7 separate regions of the Homo sapiens genome follow, and all the other regions are linked to region 6. The links come from fine-mapping of genetic effects on gene expression. A gene starts in region 6. Each other region holds a variant in brackets. All regions are shown on one strand. Distances are from middle to middle.

Evidence for each region. PIP is the estimated chance that this variant, and not a neighbour inherited with it, causes the effect. A credible set is the group of variants that fine-mapping cannot tell apart.
Region 1: its variant is the best candidate, but not a certain one, in a credible set for the expression of FAAH in sun-exposed skin (GTEx, PIP 0.72).
Region 2: its variant is the best candidate, but not a certain one, in a credible set for the expression of FAAH in skin (TwinsUK, PIP 0.57).
Region 3: its variant is the best candidate, but not a certain one, in a credible set for the expression of FAAH in unexposed skin (GTEx, PIP 0.84).
Region 4: its variant is the best candidate, but not a certain one, in a credible set for the expression of FAAH in skin (TwinsUK, PIP 0.66).
Region 5: its variant is the best candidate, but not a certain one, in a credible set for the expression of FAAH in adrenal gland (GTEx, PIP 0.61).
Region 7: its variant is the best candidate, but not a certain one, in a credible set for the expression of FAAH in lymphoblastoid cells (TwinsUK, PIP 0.55).

Annotation. Positions count from the first base shown.
Region 1 is chr1:46,420,297-46,424,361 of GRCh38, reverse strand. No RefSeq gene overlaps it. Among named protein-coding and RNA genes, the nearest start is that of LINC01398, 27 kb to the left of the region's middle. The variant A/G (reference allele first, on the strand shown) is at 2,514.
Region 2 is chr1:45,759,099-45,763,163 of GRCh38, reverse strand. It overlaps LOC105378693 (a long non-coding RNA gene), which reads right to left. Exons shown (of 3, transcript XR_947290.2): 3 at 2,327-2,517. Among named protein-coding and RNA genes, the nearest start is that of IPP, 10 kb to the right of the region's middle. The variant T/AT (reference allele first, on the strand shown) is at 1,899.
Region 3 is chr1:46,414,649-46,418,700 of GRCh38, reverse strand. No RefSeq gene overlaps it. Among named protein-coding and RNA genes, the nearest start is that of FAAH, 22 kb to the right of the region's middle. The variant T/C (reference allele first, on the strand shown) is at 2,255.
Region 4 is chr1:46,324,263-46,328,327 of GRCh38, reverse strand. No RefSeq gene overlaps it. Among named protein-coding and RNA genes, the nearest start is that of NSUN4, 15 kb to the left of the region's middle. The variant T/C (reference allele first, on the strand shown) is at 1,940.
Region 5 is chr1:46,330,352-46,334,416 of GRCh38, reverse strand. No RefSeq gene overlaps it. Among named protein-coding and RNA genes, the nearest start is that of NSUN4, 8.4 kb to the left of the region's middle. RefSeq lists a silencer at 428-477 and enhancers at 2,013-2,742, 3,473-4,065. The variant A/G (reference allele first, on the strand shown) is at 2,397.
Region 6 is chr1:46,392,422-46,396,486 of GRCh38, reverse strand. It overlaps FAAH (fatty acid amide hydrolase), which reads right to left and starts at 2,170. Exons shown (of 15, transcript NM_001441.3): 1 at 1,944-2,170. The coding sequence starts at 2,138. RefSeq lists an enhancer at 1,769-2,282.
Region 7 is chr1:46,457,298-46,461,362 of GRCh38, reverse strand. No RefSeq gene overlaps it. Among named protein-coding and RNA genes, the nearest start is that of LINC01398, 9.6 kb to the right of the region's middle. RefSeq lists an enhancer at 2,531-3,398. The variant C/G (reference allele first, on the strand shown) is at 2,142.

The DNA.
Region 1 (4,065 bases), 28 kb before region 6:
CTCCTCCAATGGCCTCCATCAGTTTATCTTATTTCCGCAAATACCCTAAGTGGGCACCTCCCATGTTACTGAGCCACGTGCCAAGTGCTGGGAGAACAGAGAAAGAATACACTGCCCCCAATCTCCAGGGTCTCAAAGGCCGGGGATGGAGGAGAACTGACAACCACACACAGAGCTGGCATGGGGGGAGAACTGGGGGTGGGGAAGTGCCCACCTGCTCCCTGTGTCTGCGGGGGCTGGGGTCATGGACGGGAGGGGCATCCTGAGGTGTAGTCCTCCTGTTGGGATTGAGGGCCAAGGCCCCCTGTGGCTGGGGGCCTCCGGGACCCGTGTCGACTCACCTGCTGCCGGAGTCACTGGGCCAGGTCCTCCATCTTCTGCAGTGCTACCTCCCTCCACTTCTGGGCCCTGGGGATCTTGTTCCGGGCTGGAGCATGCCACGAGGTGAGCAGGGAAGCCCCCAGTAGGCCAGCCCCCAGCAGGGCCAGCAGAAGTAGCATCATCAGGGAGTCAAACAGCCAAGCCACCTTAGGTATTGCACGACCTGTGTGAATCCAGCTGCTGTTTCCTCAGGAGTATTTGTCAGCGATGCTGCCAGGGCACCCACGCACATCTCGGGCCCTGGGTGTGGCAGTGATCAACCTCCTCCTAGTTCTTACCCCATCTGGACTTCCTGGCGACAAAACCCCTATCTCCCGGGCCATGCAGAGGAAGAGGCTTTAGCAGGCGAGCCTGAAGAAGGGCCCAAGCCTGCAGCTGGGCAGCTGACCTCACCTCTGTCACATCCTACTCCCACCCATCCTACCTCTCAGATCCCACCCCTCAGATTCCCTACTCCAACCCTCAGGAGTTATGGATGGGGTTGCTCCTGGGGTTCCCATTGCCTTCAGGATTCTCCCAAAGCTCCTTTGTTCCGCATAAGCAGACGCATGGAGGTGGAACTGAACAGGCCATGTTTGCCTAGAGTGGAGGTTCTGGGGGACAGGAAGAGAGGAAAGGAAAGAACACCTGGAGGAGCGGGCAGGGCTCATCAGGCATCCACCCCAGGGGAGATGATGCCAGGACATGAGACCAGCCCGCCCAGCTGGGCTTCCCCCTTGACTCCAAAGCAAGGCCATGACTCTGATCCGGGGTTCCAGCCTCCCCAGTCTATTGACTCTCCCTGCTGGTGGAGGGGAGTTGTGGGGGTAAGGGAGATGACTTCCCAGACGAGGAACAGAGAAGACATGAGGAGACTGGAAAAGTGGTGCAGAGGGGCCCTGATGTGGGAACCATTCTGCTCTCCTCAGGGGCCTCCATCCAGTCTCCATCTCAATGGTCATCACTGAGACTGCAAGTCACTGTACCCAGGAGAATGGCGCCTTTGCCCTCCAGACCAGGAAGCCAGGGCAGCAGCAGGTTAGGGTGGGAAGGAACTGAATTCATGGTTGGTAATGTTGAGTCTGAGTACCCGAGGGTCTAAAGGAACAGATGCGAGGTCAGCAGTTGACTAAGGGTGACCCTGAAGTTGCCCACTCTGTAACACTCTGTCATCTCCCTGGGGCCTCCAGACCAGCCCTCCTCTGTCCTTCTGCCTCTTTTCTGACCATTTTCTTCCATAGCCCCCACTCCACCTTCATGAACTCCAGCTCTCCCCCATATCTTCAGCTCCCCCAGGCCACTTGTCACCCGCACCACATCCCACGGCACAGCACTCTAGGCCTCGTGACCTCACCTTTTCCTGGGTTACACCCTTCCGTTACCACATACCTCATTTTATCTCATCATTACACTTATCATTAGCTGAAGTTTTCTTGTTGATCTGTAACTCACCTCCTGCCTCCCTCCCTAGAAAATAAGCTCCGTAAAAGCACAGACGAGGCCAGGCACAGTGGCTCACGCCTGTAATCCCAGCACTTTGGGCGGATCAATTGAGCTCAGGAGTTTGAGCTCAACCTGGACAACACGGCAAGACCCCATCTCTACAGAAAATGCAAAAAAATTAGCTGGGGGGTTGGGGGAGCATAGACCTTGTCAGCCTTTTTCAAAACACCTGGCACATGGTATGTGTTCAATGGTATCTCTTCAGTGAAGAAATGATGGCAGGTTGAGCCCTCCATTCCTACCTTGACTTCCCCCCTCTGTGCGTTGCTGCTAGCTCTTTCCTAGCAGCATTTAACATGCTAAGTCTCTCCTATCTTGGGGGATGAGGGATGATTCCCTCAGATTTACACCCTCCCTAACTACTACCACGTCTTTTGTCCGCTTCCTGAACTTTTCCAGTTTTCTACACGGGCTGCCTTTACTTCTTCACCTTTCACTCACTCCCCCACCCAACAAAGTCTGGCTTGTGCCTATATCATCCCAGTGATCTCCTCAAGAGTAAATCAGCAGCATTTAGAGTTGTCAGCTTCACCCTCCTTGAAACACACTCATTCCTTGGCTCAGGTGACAATGCAGTTTTCAGCTTCAATGTTACTTCCTCCAGGAAGCATTCCCTGACACACACATACACACATCTCAGGCTGGATCAG[A/G]TCCCACGTGGTTTATTCTCATAATACCCAGGGCTTCTGCTTGATTGCACTTCTAACGAGTGTTTCTGTGTAATTCTACATTTGATGTCTGTTTCCTGGTAGAATGGAAGCTCCATTCAGGCAGGGACTATTTCTGATTGGTTACCCTGAACATACTGTGGGAAGAATTCAATATTTTTATTGCATGGATGGGAGGATGAATGGAGGGAGCAACCCTCCATTGTTGTTCAGAGAGCAACCCTCTCTGAATTTCAGTTTCCTTATATATGAAATGGAAATAATAAGCCCATTTTACAAAGGAGATAATGGGTTCAACTCCACAGCCTAACGGATGTTGGATTCTATTAAGACACAGTCCCTGCTTTCTACCAAGTGCAGAAGCACAAAGAAGCTCTTTCAACAGCCTGAGAGAGATGAAGGAGTTAAGAGGATGAGAGAAGTGGATAGATGAGGATCTACAGACCAGGAGAAAGCTATAGGTTGAATGTAGACTGGGAATTATTTGTCCTCATGGGCACTAATCAAGATCATGGCTCCTAGCATTTTGGGAGGCTGAGGCAGGTGGATTGCCTGAGGTCAAGAGTTCGAGACCAGCCTAGCCAACATAGTGAAACCCCATCTCTACTATAAATACAAAAAATTAGCTGGGCGTGGTGGCAGGCGCCTATAATCCCAGCTACTCCGGAGGCTGAGGCAGGAAAATCGCTTGAACCCAGGAGGCAGAGGTTGCAGTAAGCCGAGATCCTGCCATTGCACTCCAGCCTGGGCAACAGTGCAAGACTCCATCTCAAAAAAAAAAAAAAAAAAGATCATGGAGGTAGATACAATAAATGTGAAAGGAGCAAAGGGTCAGGGACTGATTGGAAAATTCCCTATTGGAGGTGAGAAGAGGAAGTAATCAGAATGGACCAAAATGGGTTCCCTAATAACAAGTCACCCATTGCTCCATTCAACAAGCCTTCTCTGGGTACCCACTGAGTACCAGGCACCATGCTGGGTGCTGAGCATACACAGCCCGATCCCAAGTGGCTTCACCTTCCTGAGGTGCCCAGGGCCGCCACCCCAAATCTATGTGTAGGAAACTTGGGAGGGCCCAGCTAAGCCCAGCCAGAGAAATGTGAACTAAAGATACATCTGGCTGGGAAGCTCAAAACTCGGTTATGTGTCTGTCTGTTAAGGGTGTAGGTCACGCCCTTTCCTTGGTCTGCTGTGATCCATAGGTTTATGGGTGACTTGGATGAAGTTGCAGAGGTCCAGTGCTCAGATTTGTGGATAAGCACATGTTGGGAGGAAGAGCAGAAACAGCCAGAGCTCTTGGGATAATCCTAAAAATGGTGTCCAACAGGAACAAATGACAAGTGCTCTGGCTGTGTCCTAAAACTCCAATATCGCAATCGCCAGGAGAGAAAAGGGAGGGTGGACAGGGACATGGCAGCTATCTCCTGTAAACAGATATTGGCAGAGGTGCACAGTACACAGGACTGCTTCTGTCTTCAAAGTGTTGTGGTCGCCTAGCACAGAGGCTGGTGTCCGAAGAATGTTGAATGCATGT
Region 2 (4,065 bases), 630 kb after region 6:
GTGTGTGTATGTGTGTAAAATTTAACAGGCTGATTCTAAAATCTATGTGAAAGAACCAAGAGTACCAAGAATAGCTAAGACACCACTGAAGACGAAGAACAAGATAGGGAAACTTGTCCTACCAGATATCAAGACTTATCACAAAGCTACAGCAATTAAAACAGTAAGGCATGGGTGAATAGAGCAATAGAATTAAATAGAGAATTGATCCTAGCCCAAAGGAAAACATTACATGGGAGAGCTGATACTGCAGATCAGCTGGGAAATATGATCTATTGAATACATAGTGAGTGTTATGACAACAGATTATACATAAGGAAAAACAAAAAAAGAAATTGGATCCCTATCCCAATCTGTACACAAAAATTAATCCCTAGTGACTGAAAGAATTAAATGTGATGGAATATAATACTTTTAGAAGAAAATATAACATTTCTATGATATCGGGGAGGGAAGACATTCTTAAGCACACACCAAAAGTGCAAAACATAAATAGTCTGATAAATTGCTAAAATTATGAACTTTTGTTCAACAAGAGACAATAAATAAAAGGTATAGATAAACCACAAATTGGAAGAATATACTGGCAACGTTGGGACAACTAAGTTCTTCTTCAAAGACTCAACTTCCCGGTCACAAGTTACAGAAGTTGTAAATCAATCCTACCCCCCATTTCCTTCTTCTTTTCACAAATCATGCATTTATGCTATTTGGAAAAGTTTAAGTGTTAGCCAATTAGGATCAGCTTAGATTTTGTGGTCCAACCCCAGCCAATACGGGAAGGACACAGACACAGGGACTGCATTAGGATTAAAAACTCCTTCCCTCCTTTGTTTGGTGTGCTCTTGTGATTGTAACAGGTGCAAGCAGCACCCTTTTGCAGAAGTAAAGATGCCTTGCTGAGAAATTTTCTGTCTAAGTGCAGGTTTCTTTTGGCTATGCCAACCACTTGTTTCCAACAAATTTGGGGGCTCATCTGGGATCCCATTCTCCTTTGGGAGTGGCTAGCAATTATCTTTTATGGGGAGATGCATCCCACTGCCTCATTGTGGTGGCCCCAGGAGTGGAGGATTGATTCCCCCAGGAAGTGACAAATAAATACAGACTCTCAGCAACGTGGGCAGTAGGGAGGATCCTTAAGAACTCCATGGTGACCAGATAACTCTGTGCACAGACCAAGGTAAGAAATGTCCCTACTGGGGCAACAAAGTATTCCTTGGTAGTCAGGGTCTCTGGAGGTTGAAAGTGTGTAAGTGAGATGCGCCATTGCGGGTGATGCGAGTGCAGAGTCCAGACTTGGTTCCATGGTCACCTCATACGGCTTAGGGCCGTTTTCCAGTTGGGGGATTATACTGACCTGCCAATGCTAACAGGGGCCTAAAATTCTCACAAGGGAATTAGCCAATAAGGACGAAGTGAGTGCTCACGAGAGTGCAAGAAACCTCCAGTGGGGACCGGGCATGGTGGTTCACGTCTGTAATCCCAGCACTTTGGGAGGCCGAGGTGGGCAGATTTCCTGAGCTCAGGCAGTTGAAACCAGCCAGGGCAACACGGTGAAACCCCGTTTCTACTAAAAATACAAAAAAAGGCTGAGCACGGTGGCTCACGCCTGTAATCCCAGCACTTTGGGAGGCCGAGGCAGCACTTTGGATCACAAGGTCAGGAGATCGAGACCATCCTGCATAACATGGTGAAACCCCGTCTACTAAAAATACAAAAAAATAGCCAGGCATGGTGGCAGGTGCCTATAGTCCCAGCTACTCAGGAGGCTGAGGCAGAAGAATGGTGTGAACCCGGGAGGCGGAGTTTGCAGTGAGCCAAGATTGTGCCACTGCACTCCAGCCTGGGCGACAGAGCAAGACTCCATCTCAAAAAAAAAATAAATAAAATTTAAAAAA[T/AT]AAATAAAAATACAAAAAAATTAGCCGGGCATGTTGTCATGCATCTGTAGTCCCAGCTACTCGGGAGGCTGAGGGAGGAGAATGGCTTGAACCCGGGAGGCAGAGGTTGTAGTGAGTCGAGATCGCCGCTGCACTCCACACCCCAGCCTGGGTGACAGAGTGAGACTCCGTCTTCAAAAAAAAGAAAAAAAGAAAGAAACCTCCAGTGGGAAAAGGGGAGGTTGAACCTTTAGGATATGGGAGTGCAAGAAATCTCTAATACAAGAGATTGAGCCTCATCAGCCCCCAGGATGGGAAATACCCCAAGTAAGACAGGGACTATAAGAGGCCAAGCAGACAATAAAATTCCCCCGACAGGCCCCTAGGCCTTATGTTAAAATACTGCAAGGATAATGAAAGGACCAAACACAAGAAAAGACAACAAATGATAAAGTATTGCTGTTTTATTTGGACTAAGGAACCCATCCTCAGACCTTTGGTCTTTTGGCCAAAGTTTGGGTTGAACAAGGACTGGATATGCCAACTCCTGATCCAATATGTCAATGATAAAAGTCCAGTTTCTCAAGAGGAGATAGATTATGCTCTATGTTGGAGACAAGGACCTCTCCTTCTCTATCCCCTAAAGGACGAAAAAGCAAAGCCAAACTTAAAATCCCCCAAAGACGACCTAGCTAAGTCATATCCCCTATCTAAAGATGCATGGGATCCTCTAGACCACCTTCTCCCGCCTAACCCTCTGCCCCAAGCTGAACACTCAGTCCCTCCCCCATATAACCCTGCCCCATGGGCCTTGACACCCCACACCCCCATTGGACAGCCACCCGAACATGCCCCTTCCTCAGGAAAGTTCCAACGGGAAATAGAACAATGCCAAGGGATATTCAAAACTTTCGTTTCCCCTCTTCCTCAAAGAAGTGTGCCCCAACTCTTTTTCCCTTAAGGGAAATAACCACTAGGAGGAGGGGATATTGGCTTCATAAATGCCCCCTTAACCAGTTCAGAGGTTAGAAATCTAAAGAAAAGGAACTCAAACCAGTTAGATGACTCTTTTGGAGTCGCAGATCAAATTTACCAATTTCTGGGGCCACAACTGTACACTTGGGCTGAAGTAATGTCTATTCTAGGTATTCTTTTCTTAGGAAAGAACCATGATCCGCAGGGCCGCTGTGATAGTCTAGGAGCACAAGCACCCCTCTTGTCAAAATGTCCTTGCAGTGGAGCATAAATTCCCAGCCCAGGATCCTCAATGGAATAATAACAGTGCGGCCCACCAAGAAAACATGAGAGATCTCAGAGATATGATAATTAAAGGGATTTGGGAAGCCATTCCTCAAACCCAAGATATTTCCCGAGCATTTAATATACAACAAGGGAAAGATGAAGGACCCATGGAATTCTTGAACAGATTTAAGGAACAGATAAGGAAATATGCAAGTTTGGACATAGAGGATCCAATGGGACAAGGGATGTTAAAGCTCCACTTTGTCACCAATAGTTGGCCAGACATTACAAAGAAATTATAAAAGATAGAATATTGGAAAGACCGTCCCATAGAAGAACTTTTAAGAGAGGCCCAAGAGGTATATGTATGAAGGGATGAGGAAAGGCAGAAGCAAGATGCAAAAATTATGCTGTACACCCTACAACAGGGAACTCTTCAACAGGGAGCCCAGGGAACTAGAACTTGTAAACCTTCTAAGTACCCTGGCTGCCAGACCCTATACAGGAAGCAAAGGGATGAAAACCAAGAGTCAGGGAACAGGGAGGGGAAGAAGGGAAAACAGATGTTTCAGGTGTGGAAAGCCAGGACATTCTAAGAGGAAATGTCCCAAATGGGAGAGGGAAAAGAAAGTCCTTCCACTCATGACGTTTGAAGAATAGGGGGGTCAGGGGCTCTACATCTTCCATCTCGTGTCCCACCAAGAGCCCTTGATAAGTTTAACAGTGGGACCCAAATCGGAGACAGTCACTTTCTTAGTAGATTCGGGAGCGGCTTGCTTCCCGCTATGTTTTCTCCCATCAGGTTTAGCCTGGTCAGCAGAAGACCATACTGTCTCAGGAGTTAAAGGGGAGGGTTCAGGGCAAAAACTCTAGAGGAAACCGAAGTCAAATATAAGAATAAGTTGGTTACTACTAAGTTCTTGTTAATTCCTGAAGCAGGAACTAA
Region 3 (4,052 bases), 22 kb before region 6:
GTGAGAAGGGGAAAGGCCATGAAAACAGGCAGTAGCCACCAGCACACTGGTGGTCAGAGAGGTATGAGGAGGAGGCTGATTTGTGCTCTCACTCTTCTGGCCATCGTACTCACTGGGGCTTGGCATCAACAGAAAGACCTCATGCAGTTGCTGACAGACTGGCCTAGCTTTCGGTTCCAAGCCCCCAACTTCTAGCTGTGGGACCCTGGGCAAGATACGTAAACTTTCTGTAAAAGGGGGGCAAAAATGCCCATCATAGGGTTCACAGAGGATTAAATGGCATGACTGTGAAGTGCCCAGAAAGTAGATGGCTCATAGTAGGTACTCAGTAAATGTGGTCTAGAATTCCCTTTCCCCTTTTTTCCGGATCAAAAGTCATGTTATCACTCCAGACATTAAATATTTAGAGGTCTTCATTAGCACAACTCTCTGTCCCCCTTCTGTTCATTCAACAAATCCCTCCAGAATGTGAGCTCCACGAGGACAGGGGCCAGGGCTGCCTCATTTGTCACTGCCAGCACCCAGCACAGTGCCTTGGCCCCTCACACAGCCACACTTTATCATCCCAGAATTTGTGGAGCACCATCCTCTAAGCCAAGAACAAGTGATGAACAAGACAAAGCACAGCTCTCAGGAAGCTTATGGTTTAGTGGAGGAGACAAAAAAACATCAAAGAGCTCAGAGAGTGATAATGCTACAAAGAACAAAGGGTGGCCAGGCGAGGTGGCTCACACCTGTAATCCCAGCACTTTGGGAGGCCCAGGAGGGTGGATCACCTGAGGTCGGGAGTTCAAGACCAGCCTGACCAACATGGAGAAACCCTGTCTCTACTAAAAATACAAAATTAGCTGGGCATGGTGGCGCATGCCTGTAATCCCAGCTACTTGGGAGGCTGAGGCAGGAGAATTGCTTGAACCCAGGAGGCAGAGTTTGCAGTGAGCCAAGATCCTGCCATTACACTCCAACCTGGGCAACAAGAGCAAAACTCCGTCTTAATAAAAAAAAAAAAAAAAAAAAGAACAAAGGGTAACCTATTAGAAAGTAACAAGGGGCAGGGCGTGGTGGCTCATGCCTGTAAGGCCCAGGCAGGCAGATCATGAGGTCAGGAGTTCGAGGCCAGCCTGACCAACATGGTGAAACCCCATCTCTACTAAAATACAAAAATTAGCTGGGCGTGGTGGCGCACGCCTGTAATACCAGCTACTCAGGAGGCTGAGGCAGGAGAACCGCTTGAACCCAGGAGGCGGAGGTTGCAGTGAGCTGAAATTGTGCCACTGCACTCCAGCGTGGGCGACAGAGTGAGACTCTGTCAAAAAAAAACAAAAAAAAAAAAAAGAAAGAAAGAAACAAGGGCTCGGGTGCAGTGGCTTACCCCTGTAATCCCAGCACTTTGGGAGGCCCAGGCAGGCAGATCACAAGCTCAAGACCAGCCAGACCAACATGTTGAAACCCCGTCCCAACTAAAAATACAAAAATTCGCTGAGTATGGTGGCAGACACCTGTAATCCCAGCTACTTGGGAGGCTGGGGCAGGAGAATTGGTTGAATCCGGGAGGCAGAGGTTGCAGTAAGCCAAAATCATGCCACTGCACTCCAGCCTGGGTAACAGAGCAAGACTCCGTCTCAGAAAAAAAGAAAAAAAGAAAAAAGAAAAGAGAGTAACAAGGGAGGCCATTTTATAAATGGGTGAGCAGGGAAGGTGACATTGGAGCTGCGTGTTCCAAGCAGAGAGAAGAGCTAACATGAAAGCTCTGAAGCAGGGCCCAGCTTGAGATAATCAAGAAACCAAGGCCGGGCGTGGTGGCTCATACCTGTAATCCCAGCACTTTGAGAGGCCGAGGCGGGCAGATCACGAGGTAAGGAGATCAAGACCATCCTGGTTGACATGGTGAAACCCTGTCTCTACTAAAAATACAAAAATTAGCTTGGGCATGGTGGCGCGTGCCTGTAATTCAATCTACTCAGGAGGCTGAGGCAATAGAATCGCTTGAACCCGGGAGGCAGAGGGAGGTTGCAGCGAGCCAAGATCGCGCCACTGCACTCCAGCCTGGGCAACAGAGCAAGACTCTATCTCAAAAAAAAAAAAAAAACTACCTGGGCGTGGTGTCGCTTGCCTATAATCCCAGCTATTCAGGAGGCTGAGGCAAGAGAATTGCTTGAACCCAGGAGGTGGAGGTTGCAGTGAGCTGAGATCGCGCCACTGCACTCCAGCCTGGCAACAGAACTAGACTCCGTCTCAAAAAAAGAAAAAGAAA[T/C]AAAGGAGGCCGTTTTATAAATGGGTGAGCAGGGAAGGTGACATTGGAGCCACGTTCCAAGCCTCCTCAGTAGCTGGGACTACAGATGCACGCCACCATGCCTGTCAAGACTTTTTGTACTTTTAGTAGAGACAGGGTTTCGCCATGTTGGCCAGGCTAGTCTGGAGCTCCTGACCTCGGTGATCCACCCGCCTCAGCCTCCCAAAGTGCGAGGATTACAGGCATGAGCCACTGCGCCTAGCCTGATTTATACTTTTAAAAGATCATTCCAGCTCTGTGTGGAGAATGGATTAGAGGGCAGCCAGGGTTGAAAGCAGGGAGCCCAGAAGGGAAGTCACTGCAGCGTCCAGATGAGGGAGGTGGCTTGGACTAGAGCATGGTGGTGGAGATGAAACACAGTGGCCATGTACTAGCCTCAGTGACCACTTCCCCCTCCCCTTGGCAGCATTTGACCCCTTGTCTATCCTGTCCCCCAGCCCTAATCACAGGAGGAACAGATGTGTTTGTGTCAATGTCCACGTCCCCAGAAGCCCAGGCTTGACTCAGGTCAGCTGAGGTCTGGACATGGCCATGCTGAGGCTCCAAGGGCTGAATCAATGAACGAGTGAAGGCACCTCCACTCTGCAGCCTCGTGTCTGAAGGCACAAAGATATCGGTAACTGAAAGAGAGAAATGGGGCAGGAGGAGGAAGCTGGGGCAGATGGTAGTGGTTTTATGAAAAAGGCAAAATTACAGCAGTGGTTACAAGAAATCAGGGCAAAGTGCAGCATCTACCTAGATGTCCCAATCTGGGTGTCCCCATGTAGGTTGGGACCTCACCTCTGCCCTGAAAATGGCCCCACAGAGGCAGGGATGGCACTGGGAGATGGTGCAGGCGCCAATGGGTGTGGCAACCTGGAGGGCAAAGCACTTCTGGAGGAGTATGAAAACCAGGGTGGAGAAGGAAGTCTTGGGAAGGCAACTCTTCTAGAAAGAATCTGAGACAGACAGGTAGGAGCCGTGGACCTGCCCTACCTAGAGGGCTCAGGCTCTGAAACATCTCCAGCCAGCAGGAGAATTAGGGCTGGGGCCAGGGAAGAGCAAAGCAACTGGGCTAATGGGGTTAAGAAACTCCTAGGGTCAGCCGGGCATGGTGGCTTTCACCTGTAATCCCAGCACTTTGGGAGGCCGAGGTGGGCGGATCACCTGAGGTCGGGAGTTCAAGACCAGTCTGACCAACATGGAGAAACCCCGTCTCTACTAAAAATACAAAATTAGCCGGGCATGGTGGCGCATGCCTGTAATCCCAGCTGCTCAGGAGGCTGAGGCAGGAGAATCACTTGAACCCAAGAGGTGGAAAATTGCTTGAACCCAGGAGGCGGAGTTGCAGTGAGCCGAGATCACACCATTGCACACCAGCCTGAGCAACAAGAGCGAAACTCTGCTAAAAAAAAAAAAAAAAGAAGGAAACTCCTAGGGTCGGCTACAGATGCCACCTTTCTACCAGCCAGGTGACATAGTCCAGTAAGAGGTGGATAGCAGACGAGCTGAGACAGCTCACCTCCATCCTGTCAATTCCCAAAGGGCCCCTCTTTACCCCTGGGCCAAGGTTCAGGCTTTAGGCCCCTCTCCCCAAATTAGGGATCATGGAGCAGCTTCTTTACCCTTCTACAGGTTTTGCCCCACGAGTCTAGTCCTCAGGCCGAGCTATGATCTTTCCAGAGTCCCACTGTCCTTGAGACAGAACTCAAGTTCCTGACCTGGCTGCCCAAGTCCACCTTGATCTGTCCTCACCTATATCTCTGCTTCCCCTGTGCCC
Region 4 (4,065 bases), 68 kb after region 6:
CCAGTTAAACATAACTGTGTAGAAGTATTGGACTCAGTTTATTCTAGTGGGCCCAAACTCCGAGACCATCCTTAAACAGCAGTAGACTGGGAGCTGTACGCGGATGGGAGCAGCTTCGCCAACCCCTGCAAAGTGACTCTGAAGAAGACGACAAGCCCTGCTCCAGTCATACCCGGAAGCTGACTGGTCCACACACAGCTGAAGCATGAGGAAACTCATAGCAGGGGACTCATTTTCCTTAAAATTTGGACTTGTATTGTAAGGACTTCAACTGACCTTCCTAAGACTGAGGGCTGTTCCCAGTATATACATCAAGTCACTGAGGGACAAAAGATTGCTAAAGTCTTATTATTTTATGGTTATTATAAGTGTACCAGGACTCTAAAAGTTGTTTGTATAATGCAATTCTATCCAAGGTATGTAGCCCAGGAAATAACCAACCTGATGCGTGTTATGACCCATTTTAAGCCTCCCATGATCAGTTTTTAAAATAAAATTAATGACTGGTCCTTTTCTAGGCGACACAAGTAAAGTAATAGCTAGGACAGAAGAAAGAGGGGTCTCCAAGCATATAACCCTAAAATTTAATGCTTGTGCCACTATCAATAGTAATTGGCATAAAATAAGATGCAGTTCTTTAAGTTGAAAAAAAAAAAGTTTACACGGCAGGAAATAAGTATATCTGCCATGAATTAAGCTCATGTGCAAATGTGTGTAATTACTGGTCTTGTGTCATCTAGACTACTTAGAAAAAGGATGAAAAAGATCCTGTTTAGCTCCAAAAAGGAGAATGCAGCCCCTCCTATACGAGTGGACATTGGAACCCCTTGAAATTAATAATTACAAATCCCTTAAACCCAAGGTAGAAAAAAGGAGAACACGTATCTCTGGGCATCAATAGGAAAAGACTAGGTCCTACAGCAAATATCTTAGTAAAAGAGGAGTTTTGTAAACTCTCTCTGGAACCAGTATTTCAGACTTTCTATGATGAACTAAATTTGCCAGTACCAAGAGACTCCAGGAAAAACCAGAAATTTGTTTTTGCAATTAGCCGAGCGTGTAGCCCAGTCTCTAAATGTCACTTCATGTTATGTTTGTGAAAAAACTGTAATAAGAGCTCAATGGCCATAAAAAGCCCAAGAATTAGTGCCTACAGACGCAGTTCCTGATGAATTCCTGGCCCACAAGAATCACCCTGATCATCTCTAGGTTCTAAAAGTCTCAATTATTGGACAATATTACATAGCTAGAAAAAAGAAAGAATTCACTCATTCTATAGGATGTCTTAGTTGTTTGGGCCAAGAACTGTATAATGGTACCGCAAAAAAACAGTTACATGGTGAAGTTCCAATTATATAGAAAGAGATCCATTCAGTAAATTTCCAAGGTTGCAGACTGTCTGGGCCCACCTGGAATTCCACCGGGACTGGACTGCCCCCACCAAGTTATACTGAATACGTAGACATAGAGCTTAAGCTAAGCTGCCTGACCAGTGGACAGGTAGTTGTGTTATTGGCACTATTAAACCATCTTTCTTTCTACTGACCATAAAAACAGGCAAACTCCTGGGCTTCCCTGTCTATGCTTCCCGCGGAAAATGAAGCATAGCCATAGGAAATTGGAAAGATGATAAATGACCTTCAAAAAAAAATTATATAATACTATAGGCCTGCCACTTAGACACAAGACGGCTCATGGGGATACTGGACCCCCACTTACATGCTCAACTGAATCATACAGCTGCAAGCTGTTTTAGAAATCATCACTAGTAAAACCAGTCAAGCCTTGACTATTCTGGCCCAGCAAGAAACTCAGATAAGAAATGCTATCTATCAAAATAGATTGGCTCTCAACTACTTGCTAGCAGCTGAAAGAGAGGTCTATAAGAAATTTAACCTTACTAATTACTGTCTACACATAGATAATCAAAGGCAAGTAG[T/C]TAAAGACATAGTTAAAAATATGACAAAACTGACACATGTGCCCATGCAAGTGTAGCATGAATTCGATCCTGAAGCCATGTTTAAAAATTAGTTCCCAGCACTAGAAGGATTTAAAACTCTTATAATAGAATTTATAATAGTAATAAGAACCTGTTTACTGCTTCCTTGTTTGCTACCTGTACTTCTTCAAATGATAAAAAGCTTCATCACTATCTTAGTTCACCAAAATGCTTTAGCACAAGTGTACTATATAAATCACTATCAATCTATTGCACAAAAAGACATAAGTAGCAAAAATAAAAGTCAGAACTCCCACTAATAGAAAGTGAGAGTCTCAAAGGGGGGAAATGAGGGGAGAGAGAGACCTTCTCATATTGTTTTATATTGTTTTATACTCAGTACCTATTTTAAGAAAAAAAAAAAAAAAAAACAAGGAAGTAAAACCAAAGACAGGCAGCCCAGCGCCAGGCCCGAAACCAAGCCTGGGCCTGCCTGGCCTAAACCCAGTAGTTAAAAATCAACTCATAACTTAAAAACCGATGTTATTCATAGATTCCAGACATTGTGCAGAAGAACATTGTGAAACTCCCTGCCCTGTTCTGTTTCTCTCTGACCACCGGTGCATGCAGCCCCTGTCACGTACCCCTTGCTTGCTCCAAATCAATCACGACCCTTTCATGTGAAATCCTTAGAGTTGTGAGCCCTTAAAAGGGACAGGAATTGCTCTCTTGGGGAGTTCGGATTTTAAGGCAGTAGCTTGCCGATGCTCCCAGCTGAATAAAGCCCTTCCTTCTACAACTCGGTGTCTGAGAGGTTTTGTCTGCGGCTCATCCTGCTACAAGTTCACAAGTGTAGGTCATGATGTCCTCCTTTTACTCCTACAGGGACTCATAAGAAACAGGTTTAATATTGGACAGGTGTACCCAGCTAGTGATTTCCTAAAGGTTAATAGTAGTTGGGGGTACTTAACAATACCTATTAAAGGCTCTTTTATTTTGGTTGTAATTGATTCTCGGGGTAGGGGGACAGAGTGAGACTCTGTCTCAAAAAAAAAAAATTACAAGAAATTTTGCTTTTCAATACTATAACCTGTTTCTTTTAAGAACTTATCACCCGGGCACGGTGGCTCACGCCTGTAATCCCAGCACTTTGGAAGACCAAGAAGGGCAGATCACGAGGTCAGGAGATCGAGACCATCCTGGCTAACACGGTGAAACCCTGTATCTACTAAAAAAATACAAAAAAATTAGTCAGCGTGGTGGTGGGCGCCTGTAGTCCCAACACTTTGGGATGCCAAGGCAGGTGAATCACCTGAGGTCGGGAGTTCAAGACCAGCCTGACCAACATGGAGAAACCCCGTCTTTACTAAAAAGTACAAAATCGGTCGGGTGTGGTGGCGCATGCCTGTAATCCCAGCTACTCGGGAGGCTGAGGCAGGAGAATCACTTGAACCCGGGAGGCGGAGGTTTTGGTGAGCCGAGATCGTGCCATTGCACTACAGCCTGGGCAACAAGAGGAAAACTCCATCTCAAAAATAAAATAAAATAGGCCAGGTGCGGTGGCTCACTCCTGTAATCTGAGCACTTTGGGAAGCTGAGGTGGGTGGATCACGAGGTCAAGAGATTGAGACCTCCCTGGCTAACATGGTGAAACCCCATCTCTACTAAAAATACAAAAAATTAGCCGGGCGCAGTGGCGGGCGCCTGTAGTCCCAGCTACTCGGGAGGCTGAGGAAGGAGAATGGCGTGAACCCAGGAGACGGAGCTTGCAGTGAGCCGAGGTCGTGCCACTGCACTCCAGCCTGGGTGACAGAGCGAGACTCCATCTCAAAAAATAAAACTAAATAAATAAATAAAATAAAATAAATAACCAGTCATTTCACTCTAGGACAAGAATTTACCACATAAGATTTTACCTCATGTAAAATTACTCGTGTGTGTGTGTGTGTGTGTGTGTGTGTGTGTGTGTGTGTATTTTTTATTTTTTATTTTTTTGAGTCAGAGTCTCGCTCTGTTGCCAGACTAGAGTGTAGTGGCACAGATCTCGGCTCACTGCAACCTCCACCTCCCGGGTTCAAGCGATTCTCCTGCCTCAGCCTCCGGAGTAGCCGGGACTACAGGCGCAC
Region 5 (4,065 bases), 62 kb after region 6:
TAAGGTTGTGATGGTTTTTGTGCAGGGCTGTGGTTTAGATGCAGACAGGCAGGCGAGCCCCAAAACTGGGGCTTAGTCTGGGAAGGATCTTGGCTTTGCCCAGGAAAGAATTTAAGGGTGAGCCGGTGGTGTTAAACAGCAATTTTTTTTTGAGTCAGGGTCTCACTCTGCCACCCAGGCTAGAGTGCAGTGGTGCAATCCCAATTCACTGCAGTCTCAACCTACTGGGCTCAAACAAGCTTCCCACCTCAGCTACCCAAGTAGCTGGGACCACAGGTGCCCACCACCATGACCAGCTAATTTTTGTATTTTTTGTAGAGACAAGATCTCATTATGTTGCCCAGGCTGGTCTCAAGCTCCTGAGCTCAAGCAATCTTCCTGCCTCAGCCTCCCCAAGTGCTGTTATTGGAGGCATCAGCCACCATGAGTGGTCAAACAGCAATTTTTATTGAACTGGAGCTACTCCTTGTAGAGTAGAGACAACTCATAGGCAGTGTGCCCAGAGCCGCTCTTGTCCTGTTAGCAACTGTATTTATAGCCACTTACACCCACTTTTAATTAGATGCAAATTAAGAAGCAGGCTAATGCAAATTGAGGGGCAGGTTATTCCTAACTTTCTAGGAAAGGGGCAGTAACTTCCTGGTCATTGCCATAGCATCTGTAAATATGCCCCAGAGGAAGTATCTTATGCTAATGACCAGTGAGGGTAGCTAGGGATGGTTTTTGTTGCCATCTGCTGGTTCCTGCCGGTTTCTTCATTTTATCTAAGCGGCACCTTGGGAGCTGGAAATAATTCCTGCCAGTCCCCTACTTCATTCCCCCTCAGAGATTAGATACTCCTCCTTAATCTTAAAGGGGCGGCCAGGTGTGGTGGCTTAGGCCTGTAATCCCAGCACTTTGGGAGGCCAAAGCAGGTAGATCACTTGAGGCCGGGGGTTCGAGACCAGCCTGGCCATCATAATGAAACCCCATCTGTATTAAAAATACAAAAATTAGCTGGGCGTGGGGCACAGGCCTGTGGTCCAGGCTACTCAGGAGGCTGAGGCAGGAGAATCATTTGAACTCGGGAGGAGGTTGCAGTGGGCCAAGATAGCACCACTGCGCTCCAGCCTGGGGGACAGAGTGAGACTCTCTCTTTAAAAAGACCTTAAATGGGCTGCAGAAGGGAAGAGGGCCATCTTCTGTAGCTGTTTTCTGCTAATTTTATGGTCATAGGCCCTGCCTAGCATTGGAGGAGTGACAATCTCTGGATACCTAATCTGATGGGTCTAATAGCTGCTTGTTTTTATTTTCTAAGTCAGAAGATGGGATGGGTTAGAAGTCTTGTGCCAGCATTGTTTTCATGTGGAATTATTGTAGTCTAGAAGACACAAATGTTACTAGGAGGTTAAACAAGCAAGGGCCAAAAATTAGTAATAATAGAATCGCTATTTAAAAGTCTTAGGAAAGGTAAAAACCAGGTGAGAATAACAAATATAGTTTAATACTGCACATACTCAGCCTTGTAATATTATTTAGTTTTGTGTTTGTGAAATAACAACTTTTTTTTTTTTTGAGACGGAGTCTCGCTCTGTCCCCCAGGCTGGAGTGCAGTGGCGCGATCTCAGCTCACTGCAAGCTCCGCCTCCCGGGTTCACGCCATTCTCCTGCCTCAGCCTCCCGAGTAGCTGGGACTACAGGCGCCCGCCAACACGCCCAGCTAATTTTTTGTATTTTTAGTAGAGACGGGGTTTCACTGTGTTAGCCGGGATAGTCTCAATCTCCTGACCTCGTGATCCGCCCGTCTCGGCCTCCCAAAGTGCTGGGATTACAGGCATGAGCCACCGTGCCCGGCCACAACTTTAAGTCTTATAAGAGTTTGAGGGAAGAGAGAGAACTTCTCATATGGTTTTATATTGTTTTATACTCAGTACCTGTTTTAAGAAAAAAAAAAAAAAACAAGGAAGTAAAACCAAAGACAGGCAGCCCGGCGCCAGGCCCGAAACCAGGCCCTGGCCTGCCTGACCTAAACCCAGTAGTTAAAAATCAACTCATAACTTAAAAACCGATGTTATTCATAGATTCCAGACATTGTATAGAAGAACACTGTGAAACTCCCTGCCCTGTTCTGTTTCTCTCTGAGCACCGGTGCATGCAGCCCCTGTCACGTACTCCTTGCTTGCTCAAATCAATCACGACCCTTTCATGTGAAATCCTTAGAGTTGTGAGCCCTTAAAAGGGACAGGAATTGCTCACTCGGGGAGTTCGGATTTTAAGGCAGTAGCTTGCCGATGCTCCCAGATGAATAAAGCCCTTCCTTCTACAACTCGGTGTCTGAGAGGTTTTTGTCTGCGGCTTGTCCTGCTACATTTCTTGGTTCCCTGACCGGGAAGCGAGGTGACTGACGGCCGGCTTAA[A/G]CCTGCCCTGTGGAGCGTCCCTGTGGGGGACTCCAGACAGCTTGAGTGACGCGATCCAAAGAGTGCTCCCGGGTAGGCAATTGCCCCAGTGGAACGCGTCGCCAGAGCAGCATGTAGCAGGCCCCCACAGAGGATTAACACAGTGGCTGAACACCAGGAAGGAACTGGCACTTGGAGTCCGGACATCTGAAACTTGGTAAGACTAGTCTTTGGAACTTGCCCCACTCCATCTGAGTGGAAGCATGGCCTGATCACCCATGGCGGGTCTGCATTGGCACTTTTGTTCTGGTTTTAACTTGACTTGAATTGCTGGATACTTTGGTTTTGGTTTTGACTTGTCTTGGATTTTTTGGTACTCGGATTTTGAATTTCGTGATTTTGGTTTGGTATAAACGGTAAAAGTGTATGTGTGCCCTTTTTACCTGTTCTTTGTCTTGTGGTGAGTGTGTGTGATGTGAGCATGGTATTTTGTATCAAAAAAAAAAAGCAGCATGGGTCAGGCAAATAAGCCCACCCCACTAGGAACTATGTTAAAAAGAGAATTTCAAGAGAGAATTTAAGGGAGATTACGGTGTTACTGTGGCACCAGGAAAACTTAAAACTTTGTGTGAAATAGACTGGACAGCATTAGAGGTGGGTTGGCCTGGACAGGTCCGTTGTTTCAAAGGTATGACAGAAGGCCACCTGTAAGCCAAGGCACCCAGACCAGTTTCTGTACATAGACAGTTACAGCTGGTTTTAGACCCCCTTCCCCCCCACAGCAGTCAAGAGAATAGCAGCATAATGGCCGGGCACGGTGGCTCAAACCTGTAATCCCAGCACTTTGGGAGGCCGAGGCGGGCGGATCACAAGGTCAGGAGATCGAGACCATCCTGGCTAACACGGTGAAACCCCGTCTCTACTAAAAATACAAAAAAAAAAAATTAGCTGGGCGTGGTGGCAGGCACCTGTAGTCCCAGCTGCTGGGGAGGCTGAGGCAGGAGAATGGCATGAACCTAGGAGGCGGAGCTTGCAGTGAGCTGAGATCGCACCACTGCACTCTAGCCCGGGCGACAGAGCAAGACTCCATCTCAAAAAAAAGAATAGCGGCATAAATGGCTGGCAGAGGCAAGGAAAGACCAGCAGAGAGAAAAAGAGGCCATCTATACCAATTCTAAGTTAATTTAGACTAAACAAGGTCTTATTAATAGCAAAGGATAATTGAAATCCCAAACTTACAAGGTTTTCAACAAAAGTGACGTTTGCTAAAAGTTAACAGTGTAACATGTATTATGGTAACTTCTAATCTTGTGGCCTTGGACAGTCTAGTCCAAAGACATAAGGAATGGTTATCTTCAAAAAAAGAAAAAAAAAGGGGGGCAGGCAAAATTTATGTAAAAAGAGTGTTATATGGTAAATTCTTGTCCTGAAATAAATTAACTGTTTGTTTAAAGAAAAAAAGTTTGTAATAAGTCAGAAAGTTGAGACATGTTGAAAAATTGTCTCCAAAAGTTGTAAACAAAAAATGAAGGGGTGGGTTGCCCCTCCACACCTTTGGGTGTTTCTTGTTAGGTGGAACGAGAGACTTGGAAAAGAAAAAGACATGGAGACAAAGTATAGAGAAAGAAATAAGGGGGCCCAGGGGACCAGCGTTCAGCATACGGAGGATCCCGCCGGACTCTAAGTTCCC
Region 6 (4,065 bases):
CTGAGATACGGCCTTGTGGGAAGGGAAAGACCTGACCATACCTCAGCCCGATACCCGTAAAGGGTCTGTGCTGAGGAGGATCAGTGAAAGAGGAAGGCCTCTTTGCAGTTGAGATAAGAGGAAGGCATCTATCTCCTGCTCGTCCCTGGGAATGGAATGTGTCAGTGTAAAACCCGATCCTACGTTCTATTTACTGAGATAGGAGAAAACCACCTTATGGCTGGAGGTGAGACATGCTGGTGACAATACTGTTGTTTACTGCACTGAGATGCTTGTATAAAGTCAAACATAAATCTGGCCTACATACACATCAAGGCACAGCACCTTTCCTTAAACTTATGACACAGAGTCCTTTGCTCACATGTTTTCCTGTTGACCCTTTCCCCACCATTACCCTATAGTCCTGCCACATCCCCCTCACCGAGATGGTAGAGATAGTGATCAATAAATACTGACGGAACTCAGAGACCAGTGCTGGCGCGGGTCCTCCCTATACTGAGCGGTGGTCCCCTGGGCCCACTGTTCTTTCTCTATACTTTGTCTCTGTGTCTTATTTCTTTTCTCAGTCTCTTGTCCCACCTGAGGAGAAATACCCACAGGTGTGGAGGGGCTGGCCCCCTTCAACATGCAGGGCTACACCCTGGGCTGGCATGCAAGGTGCCTTCCTCATATCTCTCTCCTGTTCCTCTCCACGAAAGTGTGGCTGCAGAGTGCAGCGGGCACCTAGGTTCTAGTTCCAGCTCTGCCCCAACTCAAAAATCACTTGCGGAACATCTGCTGAACACAATTTTCTGTGACTCTTTCTGTCTCCCACCCAGGCACACCCTCCTGAGTCCTGCGGTTCCCAACCTGTAAAGCCTTCCCACCTGTCAGGTCCCACAGATACAGCAAGCCCTCCCTCTCTCAGCACATAAGAAGGCTTTAACTGGGGTCAGTGTTTCACACACCCAGAGGAAAAGCCCCTCTTCAAGCCACATCTTCCAAACCCTCAGCCAGGCCCTTCCACGCCTCCAAACCCACATACTGAGGTGATCCAAAGGCAGCGCAGGGAGAAAAGCTTGTTGACAGACCACCCACGGAGGGCTGGAACTAAACCTGCTCATGGAAAGGGCTTGCCAGGGGTTGGACACCACAGCAGGAGCCAGAGAGACTTCCCTTCTAGCCTGGCTTTGCCAAGATCTCCCTGTGCACTTGGCAGGTTTCTTTCTGGCTCCCTCTTAGGATCCAAATGCACAAATCAAGAAGCTTGAACTCAGCCAGGCGCGGTGGCTCACGCCCAGCACTTTGGGAGGCCGAGGCAGGTGTATCAACTGAGGTCAGGCGTTTGAGATCAGCCTGGCCAACATGGTGAAACCCAGTCTCTACTAAAAATGCAAAAATTAGCCAGGCGTAGTGGCGGGCCCCTGTAATCCCAGCTACTGGGGATGCTGAGGCAGCAAGAATCGCTTGCACCCGGGAGGCGGAGGTTGCAGTGAGCCGAGATCGCACCACTGCACTCTTGCCTGGGAGTCAGAGCGAGACTCCGTCTCAAAACAAAACAAAAAAAAACAAAAAACAAAACTCTAAGCTCTCCAGATCCCCTTGGCCATTACACTCTGCGATTCCAAAGTCCTCAACCCCTGGCATCCCACTGGTTGTCACGCTTGCGTTTTCGCATTCCAATAGGCAGCAATCGTGAGATTCTTTGGCACAAAGCAAAACTCCTCTTTGACCCAGTGAGGGAAAGGCCTTCCACCACCTGCCTTGACACTACCGTTTCCTTTCTTCCCCCGTGCTCTACCTGGCTCAGAAAGTGCGGAATATCTTAGGGCAAGGAGAGATTCTGGAGAGTTACACATCTGCTCTGCCCGCCCCATCCCCTGTCCCTCGGCGGGTCCGGCGGCTGAAAGTGCCGCTGCGAGTACCCTCAGGCCGCGCCCATCCCACTACGCTCCGGCAGTCACCTGGAGCCGGAAGCGCTGCGCCGCCCTGTCCATGTTCTCCAGGCCCGCTCGCTGCCTCTGTCGCGCCCGGACCACCGCGCCCCGCGCCGTCCGGCGCCCGGACCAGCGCAGGGCCACGGCCGCCGCCACGAAGCAGCAGGCCAGGGCGACCCCGGAGGCGCCAGGCAGCGCGGCCCACAGCTCGTACTGCACCATGATCCCTTCAGCCTGCTGCTGCCTACCGCGACAGTTGAAGCCGCCGCACGCGCAGCCCGCCCGCTCCGCCGCAAAACCCGGACTGGATCAGCCGGGATCCCACGCCCGCCTGCGCGGGAGGGGCGGGGAAGCGCGCCAGAGCCTAGAGGCTATCAGAGGCGGCCCGCCTGGCATCGCCCCCAGCGACATCCCGCTCCCCGCCAAGCCGAGCAGGCGGGTGGGGAAGGGCGACTGTTTCTCGTGGGCGACCTCCCAAGCTTGAGTTTAGCACCGGTTGGGCACCACAGCCCCGGCCGTCCTCTGCCCCCTGCACCCCAGAGCCCCAAATGCTGAAGACTGCGCCCCAGCCGGAGCCCCATGCCAGACATGCCAGCTGTTAGATATGAGTTCTAAATTTATCTTAAAAGAATCAATATGTCAGTATCTTCAATTCTTTGCCTTCTACTTTTAAACTTAACTTCCTCATAAAGCAACATTTTTCGATTACCTGCTCCTCCCTCACTCATTCTTCACCGTGGTTCATTCCGATTTCCTGCTCTGCGGTAACCATTTTTCCCGCCAAACCACTCACCCCCTCACTGTCTTTAAATTAGCCAATCGGAATTAGTTTAGCCTATAGGTCTAACCCTAGCCAACAGGGGAAGGACACAGCATCAGGAATCACGTGGGTCAGGCATAAGAACCACCTTCCCCTCCCTTGTCCAGGTGTGCGCTCACCTTTGCTCCGTCTGTGAGGGCGCACCCTTCTATAGAAGTAAATTGCCTTGCTGAGAAGAAAAAAAAGAAAATTTTATATTCGAGTGCTATTTCTTTTGCGGCACTGGGGGGAAACTTTATTTATAACAATTTGGGGGCTTGCTCGTGATTACATTCCCCTTCAGGGGCAGTCTCTGGTTCTCTCTCCTGAGGAGGTATGCCCCACCCTCTTGTGATGGCCTCAGGGGTGAGAAATCAGGACTCACCCAGTGCAAGAAATAACCTGAGCTCTCAGCAATGTGAAAAGAAACCAGCAGGCAACCTAGGGTAAAGCATCCTCACACACTGCAGAGACAACTCTGTGCACAGACAAAGGAAGAAGCCGAGGGAGCCGGTAAGGTACTTCCTTGGTGGTCAAATTCTGGAGGGCTAAATGTGTGTGTGCGTGAATGATCACAAACAACCCTACCTGTGGTGTTGTTCGTGTGGATGATGACAAGTCCTACTGCTGGACGGAGTGAGTGGGTCCTCTCCACGTTTCCGTAGCTACCTCATATGGCTTAGGGAGGATCCTGCGGTGGGATTTCTACTGGAATGCCAATGCTGAGGGGGGCCTAATTCTCCCTTGGGGGAGCAGCCAGAGAGGACAACACGAGTGGGAAGTGTGCAAAGGACCTTCAGAGGGGGAAAGGGAGGAAACAGGTCAACCTTCCAGGGAAGCAAGGCAAGACACCTCCTAGTTTGAGGGATTGAGCCTTCCAGGGCAGCAAGGCAAAACACCCCCTGGTTTGAGGGGTTGAGCCTTCCAGGTCAGGCAAGGCAAGATACCCCCTGGTTTGAGGTGTTGAGCCTTCCACAAATTTCAGGGGATCAAAAACCTCACACAAACCTCCGGTAGTAAGAAAAATATTCAGAATTCCCCTTTCCTTTCTTCTCGGGGAAGAAAAAGTAGCTGCACTCCTGACGGTCCCTTCCCTAGGGGAAGGGGAAGGAGAGGGGAGAACAGCAGCATAAGCAGCTGGCAGAGGCAGGGAAAGACCAGCAGAGAGGAAAGAGAAACTGGGAGAGGAAGTTGGAGAGAAAGAGAGAGGCAAAGAGAGAGAAAGAGAGGCAGAGAGAGAAAGAGACAGAAAGACAGAAGCCAGGCGTGGTGGCTCATGCCTGTAATCCCAGCACTTTGGGAGGCCAAGGCCGGTGGATCACGAGGTCAGGAGATCAAGACCATCCTGGC
Region 7 (4,065 bases), 65 kb before region 6:
TGTGCTTTGAAAGGATCAGCTGCACATTTGTTTCCTCCTCCTCCTCCTCCTTCTCCTCAGGCTTGACTCGGGGACTAGGGCCCCTGGGACAAGGCAGGGAAACGTTTAATGAGTTTGTATTCCCAGAGAGCACAGTGACTGACAGCCGCCCTGGGGGTCACTGTTCTTCTTGTGTCCTGGAAGAGGATGCCGCAGCTGTGGGGCGGGCTCTGTGTGTCCCTGTGAGTGCCCGCCTGTACCCCTGTGCATGTACACCTGGAGCGGGGCTACAGAGGGACTTCCCAGGACCGCCCTGCCTGTGAAGAGACGCTGCTGCCAGTATCTGGGAAAAGGGGAAGAACTTGGGGGACTGCTGTCCTTTGGGCAGTGGGGTCCCTGTGGTCTGAGCCACAAGCCTCAGCCCTCCACCTGGTCTCCTCAGGTAACCCTCCGCACACGCTACTTGGGGCAGGTTGGTGGGAGGGAAGCCTGAGGCTGCCCACAGTGGGGTTTGGAGGAATCGGGGGACATGGTCGATGTGGAGGCCTGAGTCTGCATGGGTAATGAGACCAGGGACTGGCTTGTCAATAGCATTTAAGTACTTTTCTCCCATTTTCAGGCCAGACTGAATTATTTATTCGTTTCTAGTCAATCGCTGGTAATGTCATTAGCATTTGTCCATCAAAGGTAGGGAACAGAGTGGGAGTGGTCCCCCTCCACTGACCCCACATCCCAAACTGACTCTCAAAGGTCAATCCATCCCCTTCCCTGCCCCTGCTCTCAAGTTACCCTGGGACCAGCATTTTTCAGAGGCCCTGCATGCAGGAAGGTCTCCATCCCCACAGAGCTTCAACCCTGATGGCACCAAGGAGCCAGCTATTCTCCAACACCCTCTCTAGTTATTCTCCAATGCCCTCCCATTATTAACACATAGACCCATTCCCCCAGTGCAGGCATCACACTGGCTGCCTGCTTGAAGAGCCAGCCAAGGCTGGCAAGCGAAGACCCAGCTGATGGTGGGGCCAGGGACCCAGTAGAGCAGGCAGTTTGGGTTGGCACCGGCCTCTTCTCTTGGTCTAGAGGCCAGCCTGCACCCTCAGACTCAGCTCTCATTATAGAGTCCTTCCTCCCTGCTCAGAGCAGGGTCCCAAGTCAGACTTCTGCCTCTCCTCTCAAGCCAGACTCATGGGGAGTTGAAGGGAGGCACGATTTGTTTCCACTCTCAGATGAAGCTCCCATTCCTTAATCAGCTCCCCAGACAGAATCTGCCTCCCCCTTGAGGCCAGGATCCCAGACTGGCTTTCCAAGGCAGCACCTCTCTCCCTTCTCAGCCCATGGGGCTGCTACCTACACCACTAAAACTAAAGGAGCCCTGAGGAGGATTAATCCCCAGGGAAGGGACTGCTGGTCCTCACTCAATATCCAGGTCAGAAGTTCCTAATCCAGACCCTTCCCTGATCAATCTAATCTTCCATCCTCGAACCTGGGACTTAAGAAAGTGAAAGGTGAGATTTCTTGCAGAGATCAGGAAGGGAGTGTGCAGTGGGGTCTTTGGAATGCTCTGGGGAACAATGGCCTGGTGAGGCAGTAGGGACACCGCAACAGCCAGAGGGAGAGGTTGAACTGGGCTGCCCTTGCAACAGTGGCCTTGGCCAGTCTCACATCCCATTCTGCTGCTGGGATGGCCTTTCAGAGATGTCCCAGATTGAAGTGGGGAGGCCAGACTCCCGCATTGACCAGTCGCCTGTGGACTGCCCCCAACAAGGGGACATAACCTTGGGAGAGGCAGCTGAGGACACTTCCCCGGGAAGGAACTCAACCGTGAGGCCACAGCGGCCAACACTCCCAGCACTGCAGGAATGTCTCGGCCCTCAAGGGCAATCTGGGCAGCACCACAGCATCCACTGCAGACTTTCTGGGCAGAGGGATGAATGGGCCCTAGCGATGGCTCGGTTCATGGAGATGTAGGTGGTAATGAATGTTGGTGGACATGGCTAGATGGGGCAGTTTTGGTGGGCACAGCAGCATGAGAAGTTTTGAGGTTATGTGGAGGGCTGGGGCTCTGTGGAGGACAAGGCAGAGCAGGATGGCTTGGAGGGACACGAGACAAAAAGTTTGGAGGACAGAGGGAGTGGATGGGTGTTCATGCTGCTCCTGTTGGG[C/G]CTGGGCAGCCCAAGTGGATGGGAAGAAGCCCCCGTCAGCATGACAGCTCCTCAGTCGCTAAGCAGGATTAGCCTCCTCTTCCTCAGAGGGAGGGGCTCCGCTCCTGCATCAGCCACCAGCTCTGGCCCTAATCCCCCTCGATTTCTAATCCACCCACGACTTTCTTAGGCATTAGCGCTGGGCTCTCAGCTCCCTAAGCCCCACCCTGAAGATGGGAGCCGGGCTCTGAAGGGAATTAGGCCAGCTTCAGAGGATGGCTTGCCAGACAACTGGAGGAAGGCTGAGAGCACCACCCACCCTTCAGCCTTTCCTCCTCTGTGGCTCACCCCCACCCCCAGCCAGGGACCAGGGTCCCAGAAGGATCCCTACCAGCTCCCTGCTAGGACCAGGTGAGGACGGGGCAGAGGGGGCTGAAGAGGAAGAGGCTCCCCACCTCTCAGGCCGATGCTGAATCTAGAGGGGGTGCTAGGCAAGGATACAAGGGTAACCCACAGCTTGGCAAAGGCAGACAGAGTGGAGCTCAGGAGAGTGTGCCAGGAGAGAAACCAGAAGGCAAACTGAGGCCAGATTGTGTAGGGCCTTGAATGCCAGCTGAGGGATTTGGCTCTCCCCTGGGGATGCTGAGGAGTCATGGTGGGATTCAGAGCAGTTGGTCTGGTGCCTGTGAAGCCTGGCTGGGGTGGGCTGCAAAGGAGGAAGGGCAAAGGAGTGGGTGGCACTCTCCAGCTCCCTCTGGTTGTCTGGCAAGCCGTCCTCTGAGGCAGGCAGAGGCTGGGGTGAGGCTCTTGCTGTGATGTCAGCAACGGCAATGGGACCCCGAGAGAACACCCAGCACCAGCTCCCAGGCAGCCAAGCAGCACAACACCCTGTGTGGCAGCAGGGACAGGTGCAGCCTGAGCCTGGGGGATGGGGGCATCAACGTGCACCTGTGAGGGAGCAGAGCTGGGGGCACCTAGGGAAAGGTAAGGTAGGGCAACAGCCCATTACCTCTCAGCAGCTGCCCTCCAGAGCCTCATAATCATCTATTATTCCAACTACTAAGAACAGGCAGCAAGAGCCTGGCTGCAGTACGGGATGGGAAGGAGTGGCCTGGGAGCGGGACCCTCACCTGCCCAAGACACCCCTTCCCAGAGTTGGGAGACCCATCAGCCCCACTCCAGGCCCTGAGAGTGGCCATGAGCTTCTTTCCTATTAGAGGTGTCCAGGCATGGAGCTGGGAAGGCAGGGGAAGGTGCCAGTCTAGAGGTGTCCAGGTCCCAAGCACCAGGAAGGGCCTGTGGTCTGTTCATGAGCTGCTTCCTGGGAAAATCTGGCATCTTTCTCTCCCCTTCAGCCCCATCCCTTCCTACCCCCACCCCCCAGGCTAAGTTGTCTGCAGATATTGCAGGGGTGGTTATGAGTATTCATTAAGCCAAATACTTACTAAAATTCTCCTTACCCTAACCCTTGCCCTGGGCAACTGTTGTTCACCCATTTTTTACAGATGAAATAAACAAAGTTCAAAGGGAAGTCACTTTTTCTAGACCCACACAGCTGGTGACAGCACTGAAACCAGGGAGGCAGAAAGGAAGACAATCATTTACAATCTAGGAAGGCAGAGTAGTACAGTGGTTACAAGTGTGACTGTTGGAGTCTGATGGATTGGGGTTCAATTCCGCACTCCACCTGCCTCTTTCTAGCCAGGCAACCTCCCTGAGCCCCAAGTTTCTCATTCGTGAGTTAATCATGCCAACTCACAGGACCCCTACAGCGTGGGCCTTGTAGGAGAATAGAAACACTGTGATCCAGTGAGATCTCTGGGGGAATGGTTGCTGTTGTCACTACCCAAGGCCACTGAGTGGACAGGCAGAGAAGCAGGGCCTGGTTCCCAGCTCTGTCTGCTTCCAAAGCCCTCAGATGCCCCTTCCCAGAGGTGGTGGTAGG